2 separate regions of the Homo sapiens genome follow, and region 2 is linked to region 1. Evidence: fine-mapped expression QTL. Tissue or cell type: whole blood. Region 1 holds a variant in brackets; the other region holds the start of a gene. All regions are shown on one strand. Distances are between the middles of the regions.

Region 1 (10,331 bases):
CACATTTAGTTAAGGTGGAAATCAGTGGGGTTTGTTTTTTTTTTTAAACAAAATTGCTAATCCTACTTTTGAATAATGTCTGCTTAGAGCCCTAAAATTATAACCTTTGAAATTCGATCATCGAATAACACTAGCGTCATCTCTTAGTATCTTACAGATTGCAGCTACCCCAAGAGGTAGGTATTTGAATGGCTATTTTGGCTGGGCATAGTGACTCATGCCTGTAATCCCAGCACTTTGGGAGGCTGAGGTGGGAGGATCACTTGAGGCCAGGAGTTTGAGACCACCCTAGGCAACATAGTGAGACCTCATCTCTAAAACAAAACAAACACAAACAAACAAAAAGAATGACCATTTTGTGTTTGAGTAATCTGAAGTTCAGAGAGGTGAAGGTTATCCCACCAATAAGTAGCAGAACCCAGACTCTAACCCTCTGCTCTTTTTCAGTTGAGCATTTTTTCTTCTCCAACTATATCTTGCATGAAGCTTTTTTTTTTTTTCTTTTGAGACAGGGTCTCACTGTGTTGCCTAGGCTGAAGGACACTGGTGCGATCACGGCTCGCTGCAGCCTCCGTGATCTCCCGAACCCAGGTGACCTTCCCACCTCAGCCTCCTGGATAGCTAGGACTACAGGCATGCACCACTACACCAGGCAAATATTTAAAAAATTTTTGTAGAGACAGGATTTCACCATGTTATCCAAGCTGGTCTCAAACTCCTGGGCTCAAGTGATCCACCCGCCTCTACCTCCCAAAGTGCTGGGATTATAGGCATGAGCCACTGCTCCTGACCAAAGCTTTTTTTTTAACATTGTAAAATTTAACTTTTACAGAAGGAAGCGCTAATAAGTCAGTTAGCACTTAACATTTCGTCAGTGGCTTGTCATTATCCCAAACTTTCTACTACTTTCTACGTTAATGTACATTGTACATTAGGATTTTACAGTCTGCGTAGTTGGTCTCAAGGACTTCAGTTATCACTAGTTATCAGTTTTATAAGCTAGTAGTTCTCAACTAGAGGCTGCCCCCACTTCCCTGTCCTCCACCCCTGAAACAGTTGGCAGTGTTGCTGGCATTTAGTGGGTAGAGGCCAGGAATGCTGCAAAAAAAAAATCTTTAAAATGCATAAGACACCCCCACAACAAAGGGTTATCTAGCCCCAAAATGTCAGTAGTGCCAGGGTCAAGAAACAGATATAAGCCAAATATTTTCATTTTAGCTGAGTAAAATTATTTTTTAGATGTATCACTGCTTACAACACTTATCAATTTAGAGTTTTTTTTAAAGACTAAAAAGACATAATAGTTTGATTTAGGAAAAAAGAACTAACATTAAACAGTGATAAGTCAAAAGATTGTAAAGAAAAATTCAAATATTAAAACCTTTATTAAGACATCTAACATATATATTGAAGAACAAAACAAAGATAACTTTTGAGGTACCTTTGGGCTTTCTAAAAATAGAATTCTTTGATCTCTTTAAATATTACTTGGACCAGGTAGAATCTTGCCATTGTGCTGAACAGGCCTGAAATCAAGTTGATCAAGTCAATGATCTGTAAAACGTTAAAATCTATTAGGATTGAGGATTGTTCCACTCAGCAGAAGGTGGTGTGATCTGTATTATCATGTTGGATGCAAAAATTTCTAAGGTATAGGCACCTTTGAATATGAAATATGAAAGATGTGCAGTCGTGGGCAAGATGTTCTGGTCACTTCTTTGAAAGAGGGAATAAAAGAGAATTAACTACAGGTCTGTCATTCTGCTTGTGATAACCACTTTCACCTTGGCCAGTGATGCAGTTAGTAATGAGCCACAAGCTTTGCTCAGGCTTCCTTAATTGCTAATTATAGAATGTCATTAAGTCTTTTGGGATACAATTTACAATTATAAGACGAAAGCTGATGAGGAGGTGTCAGATATATGCCTCTTAGTCTCTTCTCCCATTATTGTCCAAGCTCCATTTTCCACATTTTATTCATTATGCCTTTCTGTCTCACTAGGCCATGAGTTTCTTTAGAGAAGAAACTATAGATACATTTTGTATTCGCAGCCCCTAACACAGAGCCTGGCACATAATAAGCCCATGTTAAAGAAAGACAGTGAATGAGTGGCAGAAATCCTGAGTCTAGATGCTGTTAATCCTCTAGCTCAAGCTGCCCTTTTCCAGGACAGACCAGCAGTGTGGCAGGTGTCTCAGCTCTGTGTAGAAAAGCTGGCCAGAGAATTCTTTTCCCCTACTCTAGTACATTCGATTCAGTTACAGGAAGCCTTGTTCCATCACCTGTGTTAATGGAGTAGGCCAGGTGTTCCTTTGAACACAATGCTGCAAGAACTACCTAGAGTAGATTTCCTTCACATGATAAGGCTCTAATCTGCTTGGGCTCATGTCTTGGTTTTTCATTTATATGTGGCTAGAACTTTTTATCCTTTGCTGGAATTAATATGGTGTTCTCTCTTCTCTGTTTAAATTAGCTGTAAACACTTTGACTGAATCAACGTTGAAGAATGTCCCTCAAGTGGTAAATGTGCAGGAATTGAAGAATAACCCTGCAACCCCTTCTACAGCCATGGGGTATGTTCTGACTGCAGTGTGTTTCAGCCCCTGGCTGCTTCTGTAGTAGCGGTGGACTGCCTGCAGGGAGCAGCAGTGCCACTGTCACAGTCTGGTTTTCCTGCACCGCCTTAGGTTATAAGGGGGGTGGCGGCTAAGCCTGCCTACACAATGCATTTTCAGGAGACTGTCCTTTTTAACTGGCCGGTGACAGTTGCCTCACAAACTTTTAAAGTTTGTCTTGATGCTGTATGCTCAGTTTCTGTTTGCCATGTGTAAGTCTCTGTGTGGTACACATTAGGTGTGCAGGTTGATTTTTTTTTTTTTTTTAATGCCCTAGGGGTTCCAGAGTTGATGCTTTGGGTCTCATGCAGACTTGATTCTGGAAACTGTAATCTCAAGGGTGACACTCTCCTCCCTCACTTCCCTTCTCCAGGCATTTCTGTTCTTCCCATTTCTTTTGCTTTTGTATAAAAGACAGCACCTCTGTTTGGAGACTTTAGCTTCTCTGCCATGCCATGTTTGAGGGCTGGATTGTTGCTGGTGGAGCTCACTTGTTTTTTTGGTGGTGGTGGTGGTTTTGTTGTTGTTGTTGTTGTTGTTTTTTGTTTTTTGTTTTTTCTTAGACAAGGTCTCACTCTTGCCCAGACTGGAGTGCAGAGTGCAGTACGATCATGGCACACTGTAGCCTTAACCTTCTGGGCCCAAGCCATGCTCCCATATCTGCCTCCCAAGTAGCTGCTGGGACTACAGGCACATGACACCACACCCAGCTAATTTTTTAATTTTTTGTAGAGATGGAGTTTTTGCCATGTCACCCCAGGCTGGTCTCAAATTTCTGGGCTCAAGTGATCCTCTCACCTCATCCTCACAAAGTGCTGTGATTATAGGCAGGAGCCACTGTGCCCAGCCTAGCTCATTTGTCTTTAGTCCTCATCTGTGTTCGGAATTCAGGGTGCTGACTCCCTCCCGCTGCCCTGGGCAGGTTCGCAGAACATGCCTGTGCCCTGCTTTGCCCTGCATATTTTGTGACTGTGATCCCTTTAGACCAACCACCATCCCCTGTGGCAAAGGGAAGAGTTGAGGGACATTTCCTCACTTGGAACATGGGGATCTTGAGGACTAGTATCAGATTTCAGGGAGTTAGTGTCTGGTACCCATGATTAGTCTAGCAGCAAGAAGGGCAGCCATAGACCTTGTGGTTCTCCACAGCGTGCCCACCCTCTGCCATTGCACAGAGCAGATCTGCCCACGGTTCTGTTTTCCCTCTCTCAAGTGGCCCTGCCTCACTGGTCCGCTGGCCTCTTTTTTTCCATGTTGTTCTGTTTATCAACACTGCTTGTTTGAGGAATTTTTAGTTATCTCAGGGCCATACTAACAGCCAAAAAACAAGCCTTCTCTATTACTATTTTGTAGTGACCTCGGAGCCTTGGTATGCTGTTTAGACCAAGATGGTATTTGTGGTTGTTGCAAGCTTTTCAAGGGAAAGAACTATGCATTAGAGTTTGGGAATTGTAGCCAGATTCCCAGCATAGGGAAGGCAAGGCAGAATGTTACATAAGATGGGAAAACTCAGCATATGGTACAGGAAGTATTGTCTAGTGTTTCTGAGATATATTAGGTGCTAACCATGTATGAGAAGCACCTTTTGGAGATTCCACTTCTCCTTTTCTCAAGCTTCATTTCCCTAAATGGTTCATCTGAGCTGATCTTTGATGAAGGGTTTGTTCAAGGAGTAATTTTGAGTCTACTCTTTCTGACAAAAAATCTCAGACAACTTAAGAAATCTTGAAGAAACTTTCTGTTCCATTCTCCACAGAATTAGACTCTGGTATAATTATTTCATGTGTATGCCCAGCATGGTGCCTGAAATGTAGAAGCATTCCTTTCAATAATCATTTATTGAATAATAGGTAAACTCTACTCCAAACATAAATTGAAAAGTGAAAATTGGTGTTTACTGCCACCCCTCCCCAGGAAAGATCGAGAGAATATGTTCATTGTAAAATGACTTGCTTTCAGATTCTTTTATGTTTTATTTTTAAAATTATTTTCAGCCAGCTCTCGTGGAACAGATTCTTTTAAACAGTAGTTTCCTAAGTGTATTTTAAGTATTTAATTTTGCAGTTAGCTTTTTCTCAGTGGTATCTACAGAAGATTCATCATAGGATGAGCTTACATATTTCTGCCATTGGTGTACTTTATGTTCATTGGCCTCATCCATTCAGTTCGTTGGAAGAGTGTTTATCTGGCGCCAACCCACAGCTATTCAAATTCCTTTGCAGTGCTCCATCGCTTGATTCAGCAGATTCTTACACAGCGTCTGCTGTGAGCATGATACTGCCCTGGGTACTAGAGATAGGGTAGTTGAATAAGACAAACCAAACAAGAAGACAGCCGGGAAACTGCCAATTACACAAACACTTATTTTGGTGTGCATTCATTCATTTATTCATTCTTTCAACAAATACTTAATGAGCATTTGTTGTATGCCACACAGTATTCTTAGGAGCTGGAGATAAACTACCTGTTTTGTTGTTAACAAAATAGACCAAAAAAACTAACAGACTGATTGTTTGGAGAGACAAACAATAATCAAAATAAATAAGTAAAATATGTAATATATTAGATGGTGATATGGTGTGATGGAGAAAATTAAAGCGGGGGAAAGGTTAGAGAGTATTGTCTGAACATGGGTTATAATTTTAAATAGGGTGGCCAGGGAAGGCCTTCTCAGGAAGGTGACCTTTGAATGAAGAGAGAAAGGCCACACAGCAGGTCTCATTAATATCTCGGAAGAAAGCTCCAAGCACAGGGCCTGTAGCAGGAGCGTGTCTACAAGTTGAAGAGCGAGTCAGGGGGGACCTCTGGTGACGAGAGTAGAGGGAACAAGAGGAAGAATGCTGGGGGAGTAGGTCAGGAAAGACTGTTGGTGGACAGTGTCTGTTTGAGTCCCTGCTTTCAGTTCTTTTGGGTATGTATGTAGGAGTGGAATCGCTGGATTACATAGCTCAAACTGGTTTACAGAGGTGCTGCACCATTTTTCATTCCCAACAGCAATGTATGGGGGTTCCAGCTTCTCCACATCCTCACCAACACTCATTATTGACTATCTTTTTGGTTATAGTCATCCTAGTGGTATAAAATGGTATCTCACACTATCAGTGGTTTTGATTTGCATTTCCCTAATGGCTGGTGATATTGAGCATCTTTTCACGTGCTTATTGGCCAGTTGTATCTTTGGAGAAATATCTATTTAGTTCCTTTGCTCCATTTTAAAATTAGGTTGTCTTTTTATTTTTGAGCTCTAAGTTTCTTTATATAATCTGTATTCAAGTCTCTCATCAAGCATATGATTTGCAAATATTTTCTCCCATTCTTTGAGTTGTTTTTCACTTTCTTGTTGTGTCCTTTGACAC[G/A]AAAATTTAGTCCAGTTTATCTATTTTTTCTTTTGTTGCTTGTGCTTTAGGTGTCACATGTAAGAAACCATTGCCTAATCCAAGGTCATAAAGATTTACACCGATGTTTTCTTTGAAGAGTTATGTGGTTTTAGCTCTTATATCTAGGTCTCTGATCCATTTGGAGTTAATTTTTGTAAATGGTGTGAAGTAGAGATCCAACTTCATTGTTTTGAATGTGGATATCCAGTTGTCCCAGCACCACAACATATCTTTTCCATCCTTTTATTTCAACTTATTTTGTCTTTATATTTAAAATGGGTTTCTTGTAGCACAGCAATGTGAATGTACTTAGTATCACTGAACTACATGTGCACTTAAAAATGGTTACTTTTAAGATGGCAGATTTTGTTAAGTGTATTTTACCACAATAAACAAAAATAATTTAAAAAAATAAAATGGATTTCTTATAGATTAGGGGTCCCCAGCCCTGGGCTGCAGACCAGTACCGGTCTGTGGCCTCTTAGGAACTGGGCCACACAGCAGGTGAGCGGCAGGCAAGTGAGCATTACCACCTGAGCTCCACCTCCTGTCAGATCAGCGGCAGCTTTGGATTCTCATAGGAGCATGAACCCTATTGTGAATTGCACATGCAAAGGATCTAGGTTGCATGCTCCTTATGATAATCTAACTGAATAAAATATAAAATTATAGCCTGATGATCTGAGGTGAAACAGTTTCATCCTGAAACCATCCCCCTCCGCTGTCCGTCTGTGGAAAAAATTGTCTTTCACAAAACCAGTCCCTGGTGCCAAAAAGGTTGGGGACCACAGTTGTAGACAGTATATAGTGGGCCTTAGCTTGCTTTTTTTTAATCTTGACCATCTGTGACTTTTAATTGGGGTGATTAGATCGTTTACCTTAAGTGTAATTATTGACATGTTTTGGTTTAAATCTGTTATATAGCTATTTGTTTCTATTTATCCCATCTGTTTGTTGTTCAGTTTTTGTTTTTCTGCCTTTTTTTGGGTTAAATGTCTCTATGACTCTATTTTAACTTTTTTGTTGACTTATTGGCTATAACTTGGTGTTATTTAAGTGCTTACATTAGGGTTTATAGTATACATCTTCAACTTATCACAGACTGTCTTCAAGTGATACTATATTACTAAAGAATAGTGTAAGAATCTAACAGCAGTATTCTATTTTCTCCCTTCACCACCTTTATGCTATTGTGCATTTTACTTCCACTGTATTGTAAACCTCATGATACATTGTTATAAACAGTTGACTATCTTTCCTCCCCACTACCCCCCAGATGGATTCTTCTTCTGTCGCCAAGGCTGGAGTGCAGTGGTGCGATTTCAGCTCACTGCAACCTCTGCCTCCCAGGTTCAAGTGATTTTCCTGCCTCAGCCTCCCTAGTAGCTGGGATTACAGGTGCCCACCATCACACCTGGCTAATTTTTATATTTTTGGTAGAGACGGGGTTTCGCCATGTTGGCCAGGCTGGTCTCGAACTCCTGACCTCAGGTGATCCGCCTGCCTCGGCCTCCCAAAGTGCTGGGATTACAGGCTTGAGCCACCGCGCCCGGCTGACTATCTTTTAAATACATTTAAATAAGAAGAAAAAAGTTTACATGTTTATACATATAGTTACCATTTCCAGGGTTCTTCATTCCTGTGTCTGGTCCCAGCTTGCCATCTGGTATAATTTTTCTTCTGCTCAAAGGACTTCCTTTAATGTTTCTTGAGGTTCATATCTGAATTCTTTTAGCTTTTGTATGTCTGCAGAAGTCTTTATTTCACCTTTGATTTTGAAAGATATTTTCACAGGGTAAAGAATTCTAGATTGGCAGTTTTTTTCTTTCACTGATTTAAAGATGTTCCTCTACTTTAAAAATAATAACTCTAGTAATGACCAGAAACTTAAAAGGAACTTTAATCCTTTTGTTTTTCTAATTACAAATGTTTGTTGTAGATATAAAAAAGATAGTTAAAAAGAACAAACTTAAAATCACCTTTATTCCCACCACAAATGTATGATTGTTATTTACACATTTTTTCATCCTTATTTTATGAAAATGTTTCTTGTTAGAGAAAAATTTGGATGCATGCTGCTTTGTAAATTTGTAACCTTTTCAGCTTAATCATGAAATGTAATCGTTTACATTTTCCATGTCATTAAAAATTCTTACACTATTCGTATTTTTTCTTTTCTTTTTCTTTTTTCTTTTTCTTTTTTTTTTTTTTTTTTTTTTGAGATGGAGTCTCGCTTTGTCACCCAGGCAGGAGTGCAGTGGCGCAATCTCAGCTCATTCCAACCTCCGCCTCTCAGGTTCAAGCGATTCTCCTGCCTCAGCCTCCTGAGTAGCTGGGATTACAGGTGTGCACCAGCACAGCCGGCTAATTTTTGTATTTTTAGTAGAGACGGGGTTTAACCATGTTGGCCCGGCTGATTTCAAATTCCTGACCTCAGATGATCCACCCACCTTGGCCTCCCAAATGCTGGGACTACACGCGTGAGACACTGCAGCCGGCCTCTCTCTTTTTTTTTTTTTTTTGAGATGGAGTCTCGCTCTGTCACTCAGGCTGGAGTGCAGTGGCACAATCTTGGCTCACTGCAACCTCTGTCTCCCGGGTTCAAGCGATTCTCATGCTTCAGCCTCCCAAGTAGCTGGGACTACAGGCACCTGCCACCACACCTGGCTAATTTTTTTGTATTTTTAGTAGAGACGGAGTTTCACCATGTTGGCCAGGCTGGTCTCGAACTCCTGACCTCAAGTGATACACCCACCTCGGCCTCCCAAAGTGCTGGGATTACAGGCGTGAGACACCGTGCCTGGCCTATTTTTTCATATTTAATGTGGATTTTTTCAAAGCTCTAATGCAATTCCGTCTTAATTATTTAAGTTACTTAGCATCTAAACATTCATGCAGGAAATACAATTTGCTTTAACAGACTTTTGGATACTATTTTAAAGAATGTGTCTTTGAAGACATTAAATTTACCAATGGAGAAAATAGTTGGCAGTTATATTTCCATCGACAGATGTCAAAAACGCCCAAGAATTGAATATAGAGTGTTTGTTTTCAGTATCTTCTATCATTTTCATTCTTTTTCCCTGTTGATTTCTTTGTTTCTTCAGTTACTCTTGATAAGTTCCACTCTCTCATATATGAGTATGTATGAAAAGATACATGTGATAGTGATTAAGATTTACCAAAATAAAACATAACCAGGTCTCTTGTTTTTTATGCTTTTTAAAATCCTGAAATAAGTTACAAGAAGTTGAGGCTTTTTACAACAATGGGATGAGTATTTACCTTGTTGAAGTTCATTAAAGTTGGAGGGATCAATAGCAAAGGGCCTAGGTGACATTTTAATGCTTCACAACCCAATTTTATAATTGTGTGTAGAGTACACATCCATGGAACATGTGTGCATTTGTCTGCCTCTGTTGGCATGTAGTGCTGGTAATGTGTGGCCAAAAACAGAAAAAAATGACTCTTCTGTGTTTTATTTTTCTCCAAGAACCCGAGTTTCCAGACTCTTAGTGATCTGTGCCTCTGTCGCTCATTTCTGAAGCAGGAACTTTAGTGTTGCTGGCAATGTCAGTGTCATTTGTAGACTCACTCAGTAAAGAGATGTCTCTTTGGGGCTCTGTTATAGCACCATTTTCTTCTTAGAACAAATATCAAGATGAATTTCTGATATTTTTCAACTCCATATTGCTAAAAAGTGGAATAAAGTCACCTAAGATATGGATACTTCTGAATTTGGCTTTTCTATCTCTTGATCATTTCTAGCTATTGATTTCCATTGTTTTGGTTCATGCTCATGCAAAAACGTTTGAACATATTTGTTTGAGAGTATACTGTTTTTTTCTGTGTGCTGTCTTGGATCTTGATAAGAGATTTATTGGATCTGGTTTGTTAATTGGTTTACTGGCTGATTGCACTGAACAGCATTTCTTTGCAGGGGTGTCACGTGGTGTGTAGGTACTGTGAATCCTAATTTTGTGTATTTGGGGATTTAGGATACTCAGGAGATACATAGAATTATCACAAATAAATAGAATAATAATTACACTCAGTCTTATTCATGCATAATTTACTATCATGTCACAATTGAATTCTGGCTGTAAAAAATTTTCTAAAATTTGGATAAATTGCTGCTTTTATTTTTATTTCTGATTTCTGTTTGTCTTTGAGAAAGCATGAAAGAGTTTCCTTTCCTTTGTAATCCTTGTGAGCTCCAACCTCTTCTCTAAGCAAGTCTGCTGTGTCTGTCCAGGTACTGCTCAGGGCCCAGCAGTCTCACTCACACATTCTTTTCCTCTGGTACAGATTCAGCGGAGGTGACGGGGGAACACTGTA
Region 2 (9,134 bases), 55 kb before region 1:
TTGAACTGGGGTCACCTGTGTCCTTTCTTATGGACTCGCAGGATTTTAGAACCCTAATGCACCCTGGAGGGTAGCTGGGCCAGACTTCTCATTTCACAGGTGAGGAGACTGGTGCCCCACAGGGATTAAGTGCCTTGCCCAAGGTCAGGCTTATCTCCAGAGGGAGGTGCCCTGGACTGGGGCCCAGATGTTCAGGGACCCTGCCTACACCTCATTTCCAGTGTGGGCTGCCTTAGTTAGTTATGAGAACAGGGAAGGGCTGGGAAGAGACAGCCTCCAAGGTCAACACTTGGAGAGGGTTTCACTTGCTCTGAAGACCCTGGTCCAGGATTCGCCCTCTCCCATGCCTTCAAGTCAGCATCAGGCTTAGGGCAAAGACCAGGCCTCTGAAGCTGCCTCTTGTAATTCATGCAGGAAGATGTCAAAGTCAGCCCCATCTTGGCTGATCAGGGTGTTCAGCCTTAACCCCACCTGTGTTCTGAAGTCTCTTACCCTACCTGCTCAGGACTGAGACAGTTATTCACTGAACATATTTATTAAGCACTTGCTGTAGGCCAACAGTTAAGAATCCAATAATGAAATGGACAGATTCATGGAACTTAGAGTCCAATAGGAAAGTGAGACCCAGACAATGACAATGAGATAAATGTTAGGAAGGGGGAGGTATGGGGTGACTTCCCTGCAGTCCTGGGGGCCTAGATGGGCCCAAGACTGGGTGAGAGTCTTGGCAGAGCCTTTGCAACACCTTAAGTGGACAGGACTGGGAGGTCTTGGTGGTTGGAGCCAACGTGGGTTCCCTGCGGCTCCTTAGTCACCTCTGATAGCAGATTGAGGGAGGAAAACAGGTAAGGCATGAGGAAATGGCCAGGTTGGGTTAACCCACTGGTTTCAACCAGTTCAGGAATGAGGTTATTTGGCCATGACTGGCTGATCTTGAGCTCAAGGATCTGCTTCAAATGCACACAGGCCTAGTTGAAGTTTAAACCCCAGCAAAACATTCCTCCCTGTAAATGGAAAATCCTACTTCTACCCCCACCCTGCCCTGTTTTTTGTTTTTTTTTTCCCCAAGATCATTAGATGTCCTCACCCCTCCTCACTGCCTCTCCTCTCTGGGACAGGCTGGGACCTTTGAGGAAGATAAAGCCTTCCTTCACTACCCATCATATTCAGTGTCCCTGTTCCTCACTCAGAGAGGAAGGCAGAACCAGTCAGGCTTATTTCAGTAAGTTCCACAGTTCTACAAGACTGCAGGAATTCTCCTTAAGGGAGGAGAGCAAGCAGGTGTGGCCCCAGCTTCTGGAAATGGCAGAAGAGAGGGTTTTCTCATTGAATGGGGGTGGGGGCTCGTGTGTCCTGGGAAACCCCATCAGTCCCTTCATTTCTTGAGACTCAACTCCTGGGAGGAGAGGGTCTCAAGAGTTGTCCCTGGAAGGAGGGCGGGGGCAGTCTGCATCTATTTCAGGTTGTGGCTCTTGGTTCTAGGACTCTTACTTCTCTGGCTAAGGGCTCAGCTTCTTGGGACTTCAACCATCTTCTTTCTGAAAGACCAAATCTAATGTAACCAGTAACGTGAGGACTGCCAAGTATGGCTTTGTCCCTATGACTCAGAGGAGGGTTTGTCGGGCAAATTCAGGTGGATGAAGTATGTGTGTGCGTGTGCATGGGAGTGTGCGTGGACTGGGATATCATCTCTACAGCCTGCAAATAAACCAGACAAACTTACCAACGTCTTGATTGGTGTATTTTGGGGCTGGTTCTGGGCTCAGCAAATTGCGAACTAGCTAATATAGTAAGAGATTAAATGAGCATGTCCTGTGCCTTTTGTCTGAGACAGCTGAAATTCACTTATCCTAACCACCTCCCTGCAAGAGACAGGTTCTATTATGTCATCCTTGTTTCACAACTGAAAAGTAGGCTTGAATAAGCAATGTGCTGCAAGCCAAACAGTAAATGGCACAATCCGACCCCCCTGGAGCCAACCCATGAGGTCCAAGTTAAGAACCTCTGTCGGCCGGGCGCGGTGGCTCACGCCTGTAATCCCAGCACTTTGGGAGGCTGAGGTGGGCGGATCACGAGGTCAGGAGATGGAGACCATCCTGGCTAACACGGTGAAACCCCGTCTCTACTAAAAATACAAAAAATTAGCCGGGCGTGGTGGCGGCCGCCTGTAGTCCCAGCTACTTGGGAAGCTGAGGCAGGAGAATGCTGTGAACCCGGGAGGCAGAGCTTGCAGTGAGCCGAGATCGCGCCACTGCACTCCAGCATGAGTGACAGAGTGAGACTCCGTCTCAAAAAAAAAAAAGAACCTCTGTCCTAGAGCATTTATAATTCACTACAGAAATGTATTCTATGAAGGACTTTAATACCATCAGTCAGCCTTATCCAGACGATCTCAATTCTAATCCTGTCACCACCACTTTCTGACTGAGGGCTATTGGAGAATTTTCTCAACTTCTCTGTGCCTCCCTTACCTCATCAATTATTATTATGTATGTGTATGTGTGTGTGTGTATATATATATATATGTGTGTGTGTGTATATATATATGTGTGTGTGTGTGTGTATATATATATATATATATATATTTTTTTTTTTTTTTTTTTTTTTTTCTGAGACAGAGTCTCACTCTGTCACCCAGGCTGGAGTGCAGTGGCACAATCTTAGCTCACTGCAACCTCCACCTTTTGTGTTCATGCGATTCTCCTGCCTCAGCCTCCTGTATAGCTGGGAACACAGGCGTCCGCCACCACACCCGGCTAATTGTTGTATTTTTAGCAGAGACGGGGTTTCACCATGTTGGCCAGGCTGGTCTCGAGCTCCTGACCTCAGGTGTTCCACCCACCTCGGCCTCCCAAAGTACTGTGGTTACAGGCGTGAGCCACTGCTCCCAGCCTATTTTTATTTACTTTTTTTTTTTTTTTTTTTTTGAGACGGAGTCTCGCTCTTTCGCCCAGGCCAGACTGCAGTGGCGCTGTCTCTGCTCACTGCAACCTCCGCCTCCCGGGTTCACGCCATTCTCCTGCCTCAGCCTCCCGAGTAGCTGGGACTACAGGTGCCCGCCACCGCGCCCGGCTAATTTTTTGTATTTTTAGTAGAGTCGGGGTTTCACCGTGTTAGCCAGGATGGTCTCCATCTCCTGACCTCGTGATCCGCCCGCCTCGGCCTCGCAAAGTGCTGGGATTACAGGCGTGAGCCACCGCGCCCGGCCTTTTATTTACTTTTTGAGACAGGGCCTGGCTCTGTCACCCAGGCTGGAGTGCAATGGTGCAATCACAGCTCCCTGTAGCCTCAACCTCCTGGGCTCAGGCAATTCTCCCACCTCAGCCTCCCGAGTAGCTGAGACTACATACGCATGCCATCACTGCTGGCTAATTTTTGTGGTTTTGTTTTGTTTTTTATAGAGACGGGGTCTCGCCATGTTGCCGAGGCTGGTCTCAAACTCCTGGTCTCAAGCAATCCTCCTGTCTCCGCCTCCCAAGTGCTGGGATTATAGGCATGAGCCACCCGCGTCTCATCAATTAAATAAATAACCCCTAGGACGACTAAGATGTCTTCAAGATTACATGAGATCCCACATCTGAAGGTTTTTGCAAAGGACTTGGCACAAACTCGTGCGACTAGACATGGATATGGCTCTTGCTCTGGAAAGGATCACCTTGATAGGAGCAAACAAAGCTGGTCTTCGGTGCCCTTTAATCTCCCCTCCCAGCCTTCCACCTTCCACACTTTAAGAGTCGTCCCTGCCGACCCCCCGACCCCGTTTTTCTGAACCTCCCTTCCTCCCCTTGCATAGTCCAAAGCCTCTCTCTAAAGCAGCCCCCCGAAAACATCTGTCAAGTTCCAAACTTATCTGAATCGGAAGCTACCAATAGCCAACCTACATCTAAGGGGAACTGTAAGATTTCAGAAGAACAAGAAGCATAGGTCGCTTAGGCGTGGGCCACCCAAGAAGAGAGACTTAACACTAGGTAAGCCCGCGCTGGCTGCGAAGGCGGGAGCGGCACCAGGACCATCCAGGGCGCAGGCGCAGGGACCTCACGGCCACGCCACTACTCAGCCCGAGCTGGCCAATGGGGAGCGGCGGCCGGAAGAACGCGCGGCTTCGCTAGGTTCCGCGGCTTCCTCTGACCAAGCTTGACGTCACCAAAGCGCGCCGGAAATGCGAGGTCAACTGCGCGCCGCTGGCGCTGAGGGGAGGAAGTTTGCTGTCGAGCGGCCTGGGTTCCGTGGGCAAGGCCGTGGGAGGCAGCGTTGGCTGCTTCGACACACTGAGGGCGGCGCGATGGGAGACGAGATGGATGCCATGATTCCCGAGCGGGAGATGAAGGTCAGAGACTAACCGGGGCCTCCCTCCCTTCTTTAGTCCTGGCGTTGCCTTGGAGCCCAGCTGAAAGGCGAAGCGCGGTGCTGGCTGTCCCGCCTCCTGCTTGAACAGTTTACCGCGTTCACAGCTCTCACCAGCGCGTCTGCCGCGCCGCTGGCGTGATAGCCCCACCGAATGCAGTTTCCCAGTCCCATCCTGGTCTCGTGCACGGCTGTTGAGTTACCCTAGCTACTTCCTGGGGCGGTCACAATAGTGGCAATAACTGCTGTTTATTGAGTGTTGACTGTGTGCCAGGCACTGTGGTAGTCATCGCGGCAGCCCTACGAAGTAGTCGTTAACGTAGAGGAGTAAGTTGAGGCTCGGAAAGTAATTTCCCTAAAGTCACATTTGACGCGGGGCTGAAAGCCAGCATCATTTAAGACCTTTGCTCTCCCAGTACTTCTGTAAGGTGATACGGGCTTGCCTAACGTAGAGTCAGGGAAGGTCATCCATCCTGCAGAACCTTTAGTTGATTGGACTAGGAAGACTATTTTGACCTCGGTATATCAGCCTAAAGTCAGGAACCTAAAGGGAGGGCCAAGTGGTCCCAGTGATAGCAACGTGGGAGTCCCCCAGGGATAACTTCAGGATGGTGTGTTTAATAGTTCTTATATGGGTTCTGACAGAATGAGGGTACAACAGACGGGCTACATCTGTTTTAAATAGTGAAAAGAAGTAAGTTGCAGGAAGATTTTAGGCATCTGTGTGAACAATAAATCACTAAAATGCATTTAGGGCATAGTAATACCATGTTTAGAATAGTGATTTTTTTTTTTTTTTGAGACAGAGTCTTGCTCTGTCACCCAAGCTGGAGTGCAGTGGCATGATCTCGGCTCCCTGCAACCTCCACCTCCCCGGCTCAAGCGATTCTCCTGCTTCAACCTCCCTAGTAGCTGGTATTACAGGCGCCTGCCACCACGCCCCACTAATTTTTTATATCATTTGGTAGAGACTGGGTTTCACGATGTTGGCCAGGCTGGTCTCGAACTCCTGACCTAACGTGATCCGCCCTCCTCTGGCTCCCAAAGTGCTGGGATTATAGGCGTGAGCTACCGTGCTGTCCTAGAATAGTGATTATTTTTTGAGAATCACCACCTGTGGTGAGCCACCTAATGGGGTTGTGTCATATTCCTCAGATATGCTGGGGTAGAAGAAAAAAAGGTTTTATTAATAGAACCACAGACTTAGAAGATGGTAATCTCGCACTCCCTTTGGCAGCACATATAAAATTGGGATCATGCAGAGAAGACTATTATGGCCCCTTTACATGGATGACAGACAAATTCATGAAGTGTTCCATATCAGAAAAAAATGAGGGCCGAGTGTGGTGGCTCATGCCTGTGAGCTTGCACTTTGGGAGGCTGAGGTGGATGGATCACTTGAGGTCCGGAGTTCGAGACTAGCCTGGCCAACATAATGAAACCCTGTGTCTACTAAAAATACAAAAATTAGATGGCCATGGTGGCGGGTGCCTGTAATCCCAGCTACTTGGGAGTCTGAAGCAGGAGAATCGCTTGAACCTGGGAGGCAGAGGTTGCAGTGAGCCAAGATCGCTGCACTGCACTCCAGCCTGGACGACAGAGCGAGACTCCATCTCAAAAAAGAAAAAAAGACAATTGAGACAGACCTTGGTCTCAGTAATACATATTTTTGTTGTACTGAAATTGGGTCTACTGAATATAACATGTTTTAATTTCTTTCTTTATTGAATTGATCTCGTTTTGATTCTTCACAACAGGATTTTCAGTTTAGAGCGCTAAAGAAGGTGAGAATCTTTGACTCCCCTGAGGAATTGCCCAAGGAACGCTCGAGTCTGCTTGCTGTGTCCAACAAATATGGTCTGGTCTTCGCTGGTGGAGCCAGTGGCTTGCAGATTTTTCCTACTAAAAATCTTCTTATTCAAAATAAACCCGGAGATGATCCCAACAAAATAGGTAAGTTCCCTGGTTTATGTTGCAAAGTAGAGAGAGGAGTATGGTGGCATGCTCTTGTGTTTCCTTCCCAAGAAGTCATTCTAATACTAAAATGAACACTGCTGTCAGTTTGAAGGTTGACTCCCAAGAAGATTAATGGAAGCCTTTCTAGGTTTTCTCCTTGGTCCTTTGTATTTCTCCTTACATGAGTTGTTCCTCTCAGCTCAACAGGGAAGAACTTAACCATTATGCCATGCTTTTATTTTTGCTCAGTTGAACTTGGGCTCTGGCTCTCTGGGTGAAGGGTTTTATTGGCATGGGTTTTCAGTTGGCACAACAGTATGATCCAAACTATTGGCAAGGTGTACTATTTAGAGCATTGTTGCAAAAATATTTTCAACAAGGGCAGCAGCCACAGTTAGTTTCCCCAGATTGTATGAGGAAGAATTCCAGGGATACTTAATCCATCATTATATATCTTTAAGAAAGTTAAGATTTATCTGTATAACTAGGTATTGGGGTGTATGTGTGTTTATGTAGATGCAAAAATTTTTTCACATCGAACTGGATAGAGGTTGTGGCTTTATGCTTAGAACATACCGTTTTCTGCTTTGTATTTTTTTGTTTTCATAGTTGATAAAGTCCAAGGCTTGCTAGTTCCTATGAAATTCCCAATCCATCACCTGGCCTTGAGCTGTGATAACCTCACACTCTCTGCGTGCATGATGTCCAGTGAATATGGTTCCATTATTGCTTTTTTTGATGTTCGCACATTCTCAAATGAGGTAAGCTACTGTTATACTGTGATGTCAACATGAGAACCCTAAGCAGATTTCCTTGTATTGAATTACAACTTGGAAGCTTCATAGGTTAACCCTTGAAGTTTCTCTCTAGATTAAAATATGGGTTAAAAAAAAATCCTTAATTATAGAATCATAGATCTTTGAGACAGAAGGGACTTCAAGAAATTCTTTCATAACGCCATCTGCCCTAAGTTGTTATCAGGAGGCTTAGGTGACTTGCCCAAAGTCATAGATGAATACATAATGTCAAAAGTTCCTACATTTTGGATGTTCTTCCATTCCAAGCAGTTTAAGAATGATAATAATAGTGAGTGTTTATACTGACTGTGTGTGTTAGACTCTGTACTAAGTGCTTTATATGCCTTGTCCCTCGTTCATGCCTACCACAGCCTTATGTAGTAGGTACTATTATCTTCATTTTATAGGTAGAGAAACAGGCTCAGAGTTTAAGTAACTGTCCAAGGTCCCAACATTATTAAGAAGCAGAGCCAAGATTTTAATCTATTGTCTGCTATTTATTGGTTATTTTGCAATTGTGCATTCCCCTTCTGAGAGTCCCCCTAAGCATGTTAGAATAATTGATTGCCATTTTCAAAGTTGTGTTGAAATTGTCTATAGCAAATAGATTGATGCATAAAACAATCTTTTTTTATGGTTATGGAGAAAAATAAACTGATTTGAGATACCTTGTGTATTCAGTAATTTCCATTGAATATTAAATGTTTCTGCATTTACTATTTGTTAACTTATTTCACTTTTGCATATTTGTTTTAAAAGGCTAAACAGCAAAAACGCCCATTTGCCTATCATAAGCTTTTGAAAGATGCAGGAGGCATGGTGATTGATATGAAGTGGAACCCCACTGTCCCCTCCATGGTGGCAGTTTGTCTGGCTGATGGTAGTATTGCTGTCCTGCAAGTCACGGAAACAGTGAAAGTATGTGCAACTCTTCCTTCCACGGTAGCAGTAACCTCTGGTGAGTAATAAAGGCTTTCACACTGTAGCATACAATCATGGTCATCTACTTAAGAATTGATTTCTAGAAGTGAAAGTGGATAGCTTTTTGTGTTTTGGTTTTTTTTTTCATGACGAGGGAGGTTAAGGATGGAAGGTATTCTTTTTTGAGACAGTCTCACTGTGTCGCCCAGGCTGGAGTACAGTGGCATCATCTCAGCCACTGCAACCTCCACCTCCTGGGTTCAAGCAATTCTCGTGCCTCGGCCACCCAAATAGCTGGGATTATAGACATGCGCCACCATGCCCAGCTAATTTTTGTATTTTTTGTAGAGACAAGGTTTCACCATGTTGGCCAGGCTGGTCTTGAACTCCTGACCTCAAGTGATCTGCCCTCCTCCACCCCGCATATGCTAGGATTACAGGTGTGAGGCACTGTGCCCGGCTGAGAGTATTCTTTATACCCATAGTTAATGTCCTTGAAGCCAAACAGCATACATAATTTAACCTGAATGTACTTGGGATTTCTGGAGAAATATTTTGGTACAGCTGGTTTAGAAGTGTTTTTTGGGAATAATTGTTTCTGGATCTGTAACGGTGGTACTCTGAAAGTCATTTGTACCTTTGGGCGGAAAAGCATTTTAAATATTAAATGGGAGCAGGAGAATGATTTCTGGTTTTGTTTTTTTTTTTTTGTTTTTTTTTTGAGACAGAGTCTTGCTCTGTCGCCCAGGCTGGAGTGCAGTGGCGCGATCTCAGCTCACTGCAACCTCCACCTGCTGGGTTCAAGCAATTCTCTTGCCTCAGACTCCAGAGTAGTTGGGATTACAGGTGCCTGCCACCATGCCCAGCTAATTTTTGTATATTTTAGTAGAGACGGGGTTTCACCATGTTGGCCAGGCTGGTCTTGAACTTCTGACCTCAAGTGATCCGTCCGTCTCATCCTCCCAAAGTGCTGGGATTACAGGCATGAGCCACTGTGCCCGGCCAGTGATTTCTTGGTATTTGGAAACCTTCTCTGTTCTCCTTGTCTTATGTAAAGACTACAGAGTTTTCTGTATTTTGCAGCTTTCTGGGCAGTAATCTATTGAAAAAGCATTT

The links. PIP is the estimated chance that this variant, and not a neighbour inherited with it, causes the effect.
Region 2: it holds the start of NUP214, and the variant in region 1 is fine-mapped to the expression of NUP214 in whole blood (INTERVAL, PIP above 0.99).

What each region holds. Positions count from the first base shown.
Region 1 is chr9:131,175,837-131,186,167 of GRCh38, forward strand. It overlaps NUP214 (nucleoporin 214), which reads left to right. Exons shown (of 36, transcript NM_005085.4): 24 at 2,475-2,574. Among named protein-coding and RNA genes, the nearest start is that of NUP214, 55 kb to the left of the region's middle. The variant G/A (reference allele first, on the strand shown) is at 5,973.
Region 2 is chr9:131,121,423-131,130,556 of GRCh38, forward strand. It overlaps NUP214 (nucleoporin 214), which reads left to right and starts at 4,164. Exons shown (of 36, transcript NM_005085.4): 1 at 4,164-4,327; 2 at 6,102-6,297; 3 at 6,910-7,061; 4 at 7,857-8,055. The coding sequence starts at 4,283. It overlaps AIF1L (allograft inflammatory factor 1 like), which reads left to right. Exons shown (of 6, transcript NM_031426.4): 6 at 1-1,722. It also overlaps the pseudogene RNU6-881P. RefSeq lists an enhancer at 4,063-4,362.